Homo sapiens: one gene and its partners. The protein of the gene in region 2 interacts with the protein of the main gene of each other region in a pairwise test. Each region holds a gene or a part of one and is shown on either strand. Other genes may lie near its edges.

Region 1 (3,757 bases), on a different chromosome or scaffold from region 2:
AGGACGAGAGCTCTGAGGGCAGGGCACGTCCTTCCATGCCTCCCAAATCTGAGGTTAATTATATTCAGGACGGCCTGTGTTTATTATCCTTTTATTCTTTGAAAAAAAAAAAGTGGTATCTAATTTCACTGTGCAGTATATATTTGAACATTATATAACACATTTTTATGTAACAGGTTCTTGACATAAAACAATGTGTCCCTTACTATCTAAATGTATTTGGGGAACAACTGGCATTAAAAAAAAAAATATATATATATATATATATATATATATATATACACACACATATATATATATATACACATATATATATACACACATATATATATATACACATATATATATATACACACATATATATATATACACATATATATATATATACACACACACATATATATACACACACACACACACACACACACACACACACACCCCAACACTGTGGATATACCAAAGTTGTGGACGTTGGTCTTCAGGGAGAAAAGGACGAAGGTGAGGGACCTTTGAAAAGGTCCCCTCCCCAGTGAGGAGCTCTGCAGATGGCTAGATGAGGGTGGGAGGTGGGGTTAGTGAGTTATGTTAAAAGGTTCATCTCACACAAGGAGCTGCCTGGGGAGGAGCTGGCTGAGCCACAGGGGGCCTGGGTCAGAGCAATGCTGCAGAGAAAGCAGGGGGAGGCCAGAGAGACAGCCATGCATAACAGGATGTGAGGAGAATGTTCACAAGCCCCTGGAGCTGCTGCTCAGGTAGCATCCAGGTCCGCATCCCTTATGCGGAGGGTTTCAGGCAGCTCCGCTCTAAAAGAGGCTCATACCATGTTTGTCAACAATAAGACTGGTTCCCAATTGCTGTCAGCCTACTAGGCTCCTGGCATGGTGCGGCTGAGTGAGGTAAGGGATATAACGGGGTGTTTCCTCCCAGTAGGAATCTACTAGGGTGTTACAGGGCAGACTCTGGAGTTCACCAGCACAAATTCTGCCCCAAGCCATAACAGCTGAGTGACCTTGGGCAGTTTATAAAACCACCTCATTTGTGAAGTAAGGATAATAGTACCTGCCTCATGTAGTTGTTATGGGGTTTAAATGAGTTAATAAGCAAAGGTGACTCACATATGTGCTGGCACATAGAAAGTGTTCAATAAATGTTAGCTGCTATTATCGTAATAATTATTATTCCTATTTTGCACTCAGAGAAGCTAATTAACTTGCCCAGGTCAGACATTTCAAACAGTGATTGAAGGAATAAATACAAGCCAATGCTTCATTCAGTATATGCACAAAACCCAGTGGGTAGAGCAATAGCCAAATATTAAATTAGGCAGACCAGCCATCCCCTTCTTTAACCAGGCTAGATAAAGAATTAGTTTACACTATTTAAAAGGACAGCACATACTAAGGTAAAAACCACTCTCCATTACATGCCAGTACTCAACGTTCCCCTGCAGCAAAGATGACTAAACCTTATCCAATCTTATCTCCCCCTGAGGTTAAGTCCCCAATTCAAACCCTCCTTCCATGCAGACCTAAGTACTTACGGCCATGTCCACTTATGGCCCTGTTGCACCCCCACCTCTATGCAGTGTGCATCCTGTTCCCTCCACCTGCTCCGTCCCTGAGTGCCCACCCCATCCCATCTCCTCCTCCACAAGATCAATGTGCATTGGACAACCATGGCCTAAAGGCTCCCTGTGCCTGTCATTTTGGAAAAAGCAAGATAAACTTCTCCCAGAATGCTCAGGCTGAGCGAGCAGGTGAGATATTTTCAGAGACAGCCCAACACAATATGGAATGCAGCAGAACCTAAGAGAATTGGAGAAAAATCAATGTGGACATTGCTGCCAGGTGTGGGGAGGAAGGAAAACAAAATGAAGAAATAGTGCTGCAGGACCAAGGCCCTGGGTCCTAAAAGCAGAGGAGGATTTGGACACGTGAAAATTGAGGGATGGACTGGGCCAAGGGCTGGTACAGGGAATGGACAGCCCCTCAGCTTGACTACAGTGTCCAGGCACATGGCAAGGTCTGGCAGACAGGCAGGCTGAATGTGGAGACCACTACAAACCAGGCCAAGGCACCCCGGCAAGGCAACGAAGAGCAGCAAGACTGACAGCAACATTCACTGAGTGTTTGCAATGTGCCATGAATAGACTGGCACACTTTTTCCAATGCTTTAACTCATTTAATCCACACCTCAACTCTCTGATGTAGGGGCTACTATGATCCCAGTTTTATAGATGAGGACACCAAGGCATAGAGAGCAAAAGAAAATTGACCACAAGTCACGAAGCCAGTAGGGAATACTTAGGATGTGAAATCTGGCTCCAGAGTCTGTATGCTAAACTACCCAACCAAACTGCCTTTTAGGACAGCCTGGGGAATGAAGGGATGTAGGCTCCAGTGTGTCATGAGGACTCAATGTGACAGTGCTTGCAAGCAGTCTGCAAACCTGTAACTCCGAGACCACAAATGCAGATTACAGGCTGCCATTCATGTCCACAACGGACCTGCTAGCAGAACACAGGAGAGACAGGTCAGGGCTAGAGAGGGGACCCCAGGCCACGGACAGTGTGAATAGCAGAAGCTAGGACAGACATTTATCTTTACAGGGGTGCAGGAAGAGAATCAAGAAACCAGCATGACCCAAAGGCTGAGAGAGGAAAGGATTTCAAAGGACAAAAAACAAGTGAGGTAAAAGCTTCAAAGGGGCTGAGCACAGTGACTCACGCCTGTAATCCCAGCACTTTGGGAGGCCAGTGCAGGTGGGTCACTTGAGCCCAGGAGTTTGAGACCAGCCTGGGCAACATGGCAAAACTCCATCTCTAATAAAAATACAAAAATGAGCCAGGTGTGATGGCACGTGTCTGTAGGCTCAGCTACTCTGGAGGCTGAGGCAGGAGGATTACCTGAGACTTGGGAGGCTGCAGTGAGCCACGATTGCACCACTGCACTCCAACCAGGCAAGACTGAGACCATGTTTAAAAAAATAAAAGAAATACTGCAAAGGGGCCAAGAACAACCACTCAGGAATAAGGATGGGCAGATGGGCCCCAGGAACTCACGACAAAGTTTTGGAGAAAACTTTGAGAAGAAATATAAAGAAAGGTGGTAGCGAGAGAAGCCAGAGGGCAGGTACTAAGAATGGAGCAGGAGATGGGAGAGTGGGGGAGGCTGGCAGGAGGGAGGAAAGAGAGGCTTACGAACCCAGGGTACCAAGTAAAGACACATGTAAATTGCCTGGTACACAGCAGGCTCACCACAAGTCTGACTCTGCCTCTTCCATCCTTCCTCTCCTAAGTCAAGCCTAAGGTTTTCAGGGTGGGGCAGGGGAGACTAAGGACAAACAGCACAAATAATATTCTAGTGATAGGACCCGGGTAGAGGTGAGAAGGAATGGCAGCTGGCACAAAGGAAAGGCTTCCTGTGTGCCAGGCCTTTTACATGCACCATCTCCCTTAATCCTCACACAGACTCCACGAGGCAGGCACTGCCATTACACCAAGAGGAGAAACCTGAGGTCAGAGGAGTCAAGCACACATCCAAGACCACAAAGCCCAAACCTGAGCCATGGATTCTTCTGCCACCAGAGCCCAGGCACTTGCCCATGGTGAGAGGCCAAGAAAAGGAACAGAGGAGAGGTCCACTTGCTTTCTCTGAATTGGGAGGAGATGAGGGGACGATGGGGATAGAGACAGGACATTTTGGGTGGGAAGTAAGAGATGCTGAGGGGGTTGAGTCAGAGCAGGTCTTATTTCATG
Region 2 (2,948 bases):
ATATCATGCTCATGTCCAGTTCTGGGCTTTCACTGTGCTCTGTCTCTGGCCGAGGGGATCTCTGCTCTTCCCAATCACAGTCTACCTGGGAAGACCCTACTCCAGCCCAGCCGCCTCCAAATTGAAGTCCTAATGCCCAGGCTGCCCCTTTCCCTTCGGGACCTCCATCCCAAAGTGCACTATGTGAATATACAGAACAGTGTGGCTCTCAAACGACTTCATGTAATTTTCTGAAAGCAGAGACCATGACTTCTTTCCTTGGGTTCCCCATAGGATACAAAAAATGGCCCCGAGGCACATAGATAGATAGATAGAAAAATACTTGCAGAAATATGGAAGATACAATATGAATTTTCAGACTTAGGCAACTACCAAGTATTTAACACAGTCTTTCCTTCACCAGTCTTATCAGCTCACTTCAGTAGTCTCATAAAGGTCTGTGCTAATGTTCAATTTATATGAACGACTTAATACTTCACTTTACATTGGCATAGCCCATGATAAATCCACAGGAAATAAGAGCCACCAGCAGTGGTAGGATCAGAATACTTTAATAAGATACCAGTGTCAAAATACATTTCCTTATAAAGTTAAGCTCCCATACAGTTATAATGTTGTCAGTAGGAATTCGACAATATAATAACGTTCATGAAATCGTTACGTTGACAGGTAGGGTTAATATGAAGCTTGGAATATTTTTCAGTGTTTTAGTAAAACTGCAAGGGTAAAATGCCCTTAATGCCAGGGCAACACACACAGGAAATCAAATACCAGCATTTACACGTCAGTAACCCTTCAAGTTCTGCCACCCTGTGTGGGGTAATGCCGTGCAGCTAAAATATGATTTACGCAACACCATGACTAAGGAATTTCTCATAGAACTTAAATTTCTTTTGAAAGCTATTTTTTGTTTTTGGCAATAAGTCTATCCGGGCTTACTAAATAGTTGGCCCAATGTGCTTTGTGTGTGTTTTTAGAAACTTCTTCATTGTACCCATTACAGAAAAGTTCCATGTAATTGGTATTGAAAAACCAGAGGTGTCGTCCCTCTTACCCAGGGAGTTGCAAAGTGCTCTGGGAACACTATTTTCAGTGCTTCCTACCTACATGTCACTGACCGACCCAGAGACCTCAGCCAGGGCCTGTGGCTAGGGGCCATCCCTGGAGGCCTTGCGGGGCCATCTGGCTGCCGGCTGAGTGGGGGCTGCAGGGCTGGTCTGGACCAGCTGCTCTCCCGCTGTGCAGCCTCCTCCTCAGTCCAGCTCCACGGGGCTCCAAGGTCGTGAGCTTGGAGGACGTGGACGGGGTCACTATACCATTTTTGACCCCTCATTTGCATGAATTCCCGTCTAAACCATCTCATGGTAGTTCTGGAAATGTCCAAATGTGCCGTGTGAAAGACCATCCGAGTCACATAGCTCAGTGCACTTGAAGGGCTAGCAACAAAACCTTAAGAAAAGTTAGAGCACTTCCCCGCCCCACCCCCCGACCCCACAACGTGCCATCAGACCCTCTTGGCAGCAATAATAATAATACATACATACATAGTACATAGAGAATGTGAGGGGATAGCGCGCAGTGCTCCCGCTGAATGACTCCACTGCTCGGATTGTCACACCTATGGCATATCACAGATGGCAAAAAGCCGACAGAGGGAGGCCTTCCACAGTGTCCGTACAGGCCGTGGGAGCACTGGACAAGTCTGCAGTGTCCACAACACTAAGAAAAATTAACAGCTTCGAAAAGATCTTAAAGTGATTTTGTGAGCAGGATTCCATTTCCGTTTCTAAGTTTTTAGATATTACAAAGTACCCATATATATGATAAACACTTAACCCAGATATAAATTTTCTCCTCTTTTAAAAAACTCAGTTATGTTTTTGAATAATAATAAAAAATCCACCAAATGCGGGGGAAAAACACCAGTTTAGGAAAAGCCACGCTGTGCAACTTTCACAGATAACCACATACGTTGGAGTTGACCCTTCACATTTCTTTTTTTCCAAAATTAGAGCAAAGAGTCAGCTTAAACAAAAAAAAAAAAACCCTGAAATTTACAATATGGTGATTAGTTTAAAAAAGAAACGAGAAGGGCTCTGCGAGGGAGACGCCACAAACCAAGCTTGGAAAGCAAAATCATTTTTGTTTCTCTTTGGCAACAACAATAACGAGGAATCTTTTTAGTAAAATGAAGCTAAAGCTTCTCCCTACAGAAGAACAGACATGCACCAAACTTGTTAGTATGGACAGTTGTGTGTGAGAAGGAGAAGGAGGGAGAGAAACCTATGGATAATATAAATTAGAAGTCATTGAAGGTGGGGAGGAAAAAAATCCTACAAAATTTAAGAACATTTCAGAACAGGTAAAACAATTGTGTACTTTAAAAATAGGGATAATAAAGTGAGCATCTCAGAAAAAGGCCACTGCTTGGTGACCTGGGCAAGTCTGCCAGGTAAGTCCATCTTGTAAATAGTGTGCTGGCGTTAGAAATACCTAGTTGCAAAAACAGACGGAGAGAGTGAAGCTGGTGGGACGGCGTCGGCAGAGGTGCTGCCCAGGTAGAAGGCCTGGCTCAGGTGGCCTGGTCCAGGGCTCTGAGGAGGTCCCCTCCTTGCAGGAGCGTGGAGCTTCCCAGCACGGGCACGTTCACCTCACAGTCATATCTGGTCAGTTCGGGCAGCAGGTAGGACTCAAATGAGGGCCCGAGCAGCCGGCTTGCCATGCCTGAAAGAAGGGTTGGTACCATAACTTAAAGGCCTAAATCGAACATTTGGAAAAGTGTCTACTTCTTTGTGACTGGGGGATACCAATAGAGCAGCCCTAATTTCACTCTGCTCCTTCAGTGGTGTCTGTCCCACGGCCTGCTGCATGCCCGGGGAACGTGTCTGCCTCCAGAACCACTGCCTCAGGTGGGGTGCTGAGACCCAAGAAAGAGGAAAGCGTGAGGT
Region 3 (3,757 bases), on a different chromosome or scaffold from region 2:
CTGGAGGCTGAGGCAGAATGGCGTGAACCCAGGAGGCAGAGATGGCAGTGAGCCAAGATCGCGCCACTGCACTCCAGCCTGGGCGATAGAGCGAGACTCCATCTCAAAAAAAAAAAAAAAAAAAAAAAGAAAAGAAAAGAAAAGTCTAGAGTACTGTTTTTATGATACTTTCGTGCAATTTGTAGATATATTCTTTCTCACGAAAATTCAAAAAATTGACTCGCAGTAGAAAAAAGGAACATAGTGTATACCATAAAAATATGTCACTTCTAACAGCAAAAATCAAATTTAGTTGAAGAAAACTAAAACATTTTGAAGGAAACACAAACCTTAGGAGAGCTACGGTATCATACAATGCATGGATTAGATTTTGAGTCCAGGACAAAAGGATCTACAGAAAAATATTAGAGCGAACTAATAAAGGATCAAACCATGCACAGAGTATTCAACTGGCTATCTGCCCACTGGTCTATGGAATTGAACAGCCCCTCCTCTTGCAAAGAGAAAAAACTGCCACTGTGAGAGGCAGCACTGGTCTCCCTCTAGAAACTCTGCCTCTCAAATCCTGGCATCACGAGGGCAAGTCTGCCCCCATCTGCTTTTGAGGCCATCCAGCTATGATGGCCTACCCTGCCACCCCTGGCTTAGGCAGACTCTTTGGAAGCCAAGTCTAACCTGCAATGGTTCAGTCCCCTAAAAAGTGATATTGGTAGGCAGGCCCCTCTGCTCAATTTAGAGAACACAGGGGATCTTTCATACTTCTTTAGACTTAACTATAACACTTAGGCTGCTGCACACCAATTCTCCCCATCTTGTAGGATTTCTTTGGCTCATTCTAAACCTGATGTCTCTCAGGTCCTCAAGTGTCGGACCAGGAATGGTGCCAACCCTCCAACATTGCTGGGACACTATCAGTTCAAGAGGACAGTGTGCCAATACATCCTTGCCCACGAAGCCCCTGCACATTTCACACTTGAAGGAAACATTTGCTTTTGGTTATTGTCTGTTGGTATGTTTGTCATTAACATGTCTGACAGAAGTTCTAATCTATCACCTACAGCTAAAGAAATAGCATGCAGGGTCAAAATAATGCTTTGTTTTGGCGAGGGGCTCTGAGGGAAATTTTCTGGAAAGATGTAGCACCATATAGAACAGGAAACTGGATTTGAAGCCCACATTGAAGTCTGAGGGCTGCCCCATGAGTTCCCAGCCTATCTGACTTTCATTTGCGAGGCACGAGAGAGAAAATATGGGAGCATACTTGGCAAGCTATGAAGAGCTACTGAAGCAGAAAGTGTTATAAAGTATGATCCCCGAGAAGGTAGACATGCAGTATTTTAAATAATCTTAATTCTTATACTCAATTTGAGCCACCTCTGGATTAATTACTGTTAAAAATGCTCTCCAAATTTTAAATTATAACTAGAAAATTGGTTTTTAAATTATTTCTCATTGCCTCATAATTTTAAACATGTACTTGTCATTTTGTTTTATTACCTTTGGTTACAGGCAATAACTGTAATTGCCTAATTACTTAGAAAGCTACAACTAGTTCCTGGGTCAGTTAGTTAATCATTTAATCTGTGAGACCAATGTTTTCCCAAATGTGTATAAAGAAACTGGTTTATATACATTAAACATTTAAAACTCTATGAATTTAATGTGTGACTGAATTTAATGTGTGACTTTACACAAGACATTTAATCTGCCCGGGCCTACTTTTTTCCTTTAGGACAAATCTATCCCTAAGTATGTTTCCAATGTCAAAAACCTAATCTATCTATAATAGAGATCTTCAGTGATTATATTAAATCTTTTTTTTTACTTTTTTTGAGATGAAGTCTCACTCTGTTGCCCAGACTGGAGTGCAGTGGTGCGATCTCGGCTCACTGCAACCTCTGCCTCCCAGGTTCAAGCAATCCTCTCGCCTCAGCCTCCCAAGCAGTTGGGATTACAGGTGTGTGCCATTAGGTCATGAGGCCTTTGCGCTCATGAATGGACTGTCATTATCGTGGGAGTTGGTTAGTTACCTCAAGAGTGAGTGCCTGGGTAATTTTTTTTGTATTTTTAGTAGAAACGGGGTTTCACCATATTGGCCAGGCTGGTCTTGAACTCCTGACCTCAAGTGATCTGCCCGTCTCAGCCTCCCAAAGTACTGGGATTACAGGCGTGAGCCACCACGTCTGGCCTATTAAGAGTAAATCTTATATGCAGAGGTTAATCCCCAAGATCTAGGGCCCAAGATCCTTCCTTTTCTGTAAGGAAAGCTGAAACTCTTTTGACTTTCTGAGTTTTAAGCAAGAAATCATCTCACTTAAAATTCATCTTAAAGTGCTCAACTGAGCATAAATATCCCAGCTCTGTGCTTGCCTAAGTCTCCAAAGATCAAATACAGTATTCAATGTGATTATGACTATAAATTGCACTGTCCCTTTAAATGTTCAAGTACTCACTGTTTTCTTAAAGTGTGTAAGCCCTATCCTCAATTAAGGAAATTCGCAAGGAATGGAAAATGTTCCAAATTATACAAACCTACTATTATAAATGAATCTTAGACACAAAGGAAAACATCAATATATTACATTACCTCAACTAAAAAAAACTGCATCAAAAATAAAACAAAGCCAAAACAATATGTAAGTAGTATTCTTGGTTAGAAATATTTTAGCAAAAATATGGCAACTAGTGGATTATAAGCCATTTCACTGAATAAAGGAGTCTATAATAAACTTGGTTCTCTTGGGAGGAAAACGTATTTCCCCACATCCCTGTGACAGGAAGATGCAAATCTATAAAAAGTGGTAGAACATTAATAAAAGATACAAACAATATCAATACAGTACTTAAGAATAGTTGAGACAGTTTTTCGTAAATGAAATGCTTTAAAATGTTTCTCATTTTTGGAGTTAAAAATCAAAGGCTAGAGGGTCCACTGGATGTCACTGAAGTCCCCAGGGTCTCCCAGGCCCCCCTCTGCTTCTAAGTAATTCATAAATGCAGCCATGGCTGTGTCATCATTGTCACATAGGGCATCGAAATCCAACTGTGCACCATCACCTATGAATTAAAATACAGGCCTGTGTAAGTAAAGGTGATCAGTAAAGTCATACATTTCACACATTTTGAGGTTAAAAAATGATTGTGATAAAAAATGGCAAAGCAAGGCTAGAAAACCATAAAATGTATTTTTGAAGGCAAAGTATATATCTTAAGCTGCAGATGGCTGATGTATTTTTAAATGGGTTACCTAGTTTTATAACAATCTTCTGTCAGATAAATTGCACCTAATTCATCTGCTACAGAGAAGTAAGCTAGTCTATGAGTTTTCTAATAGGAAATTACACTGCTAAAGGGTACAGACTCTCAGAGAGCTGGAAGGAAGCTAGGAAATTTAGTGTATGTTTGTGTGTGTGTGTGTGTGTGTGTGTGTGTGCACGCGCAAACCCTGGAAGGAGAAAATTTAATCTGCTTATGAAAAAACCCTATCTGTTTAATACTGAAATGAGAAGCCTGAGACAGAAGCATCTTCTAAAGATTTGGAATTTTCTTATAAAAGGGAGATAAATCAGATTTTTATTGAAAAAGGAAGTAAGTAGGAACCATGGAGATGATAATTAATTTAGAGATAAAAGGTTCTAGAAATTAAGGGTTAAAATGCAGATAAAGACTAACCAAAGGTTTGTATATATGTGTCAAAGTACAGTGGAACTTCAGATAATAAATATATGGCTCTATGTGTGTTTAAAGTGGATATCCA

What was found.
Region 1: the proteins of EPAS1 (region 2) and BMAL1 interact in binary tests that used the Homo sapiens proteins (3 or more experiments, as listed by UniProt).
Region 3: the proteins of EPAS1 (region 2) and BMAL2 interact in binary tests that used the Homo sapiens proteins (3 or more experiments, as listed by UniProt).

What each region holds. Positions count from the first base shown.
Region 1 is NC_000011.10:13,280,759-13,284,515, reverse strand, and holds part of BMAL1 (basic helix-loop-helix ARNT-like protein 1), read right to left. Parts: intron 1-3,757. UniProt on the Homo sapiens protein: Transcriptional activator which forms a core component of the circadian clock.
Region 2 is NC_000002.12:46,384,285-46,387,232, reverse strand, and holds the end of EPAS1 (endothelial PAS domain-containing protein 1), read right to left. Parts: intron 2,725-2,948; coding exon 2,573-2,724; 3' UTR 536-2,572; downstream 1-535.
Region 3 is NC_000012.12:27,419,696-27,423,452, reverse strand, and holds part of BMAL2 (basic helix-loop-helix ARNT-like protein 2), read right to left. Parts: intron 3,058-3,757; coding exon 2,921-3,057; 3' UTR 1-2,920. UniProt on the Homo sapiens protein: Transcriptional activator which forms a core component of the circadian clock.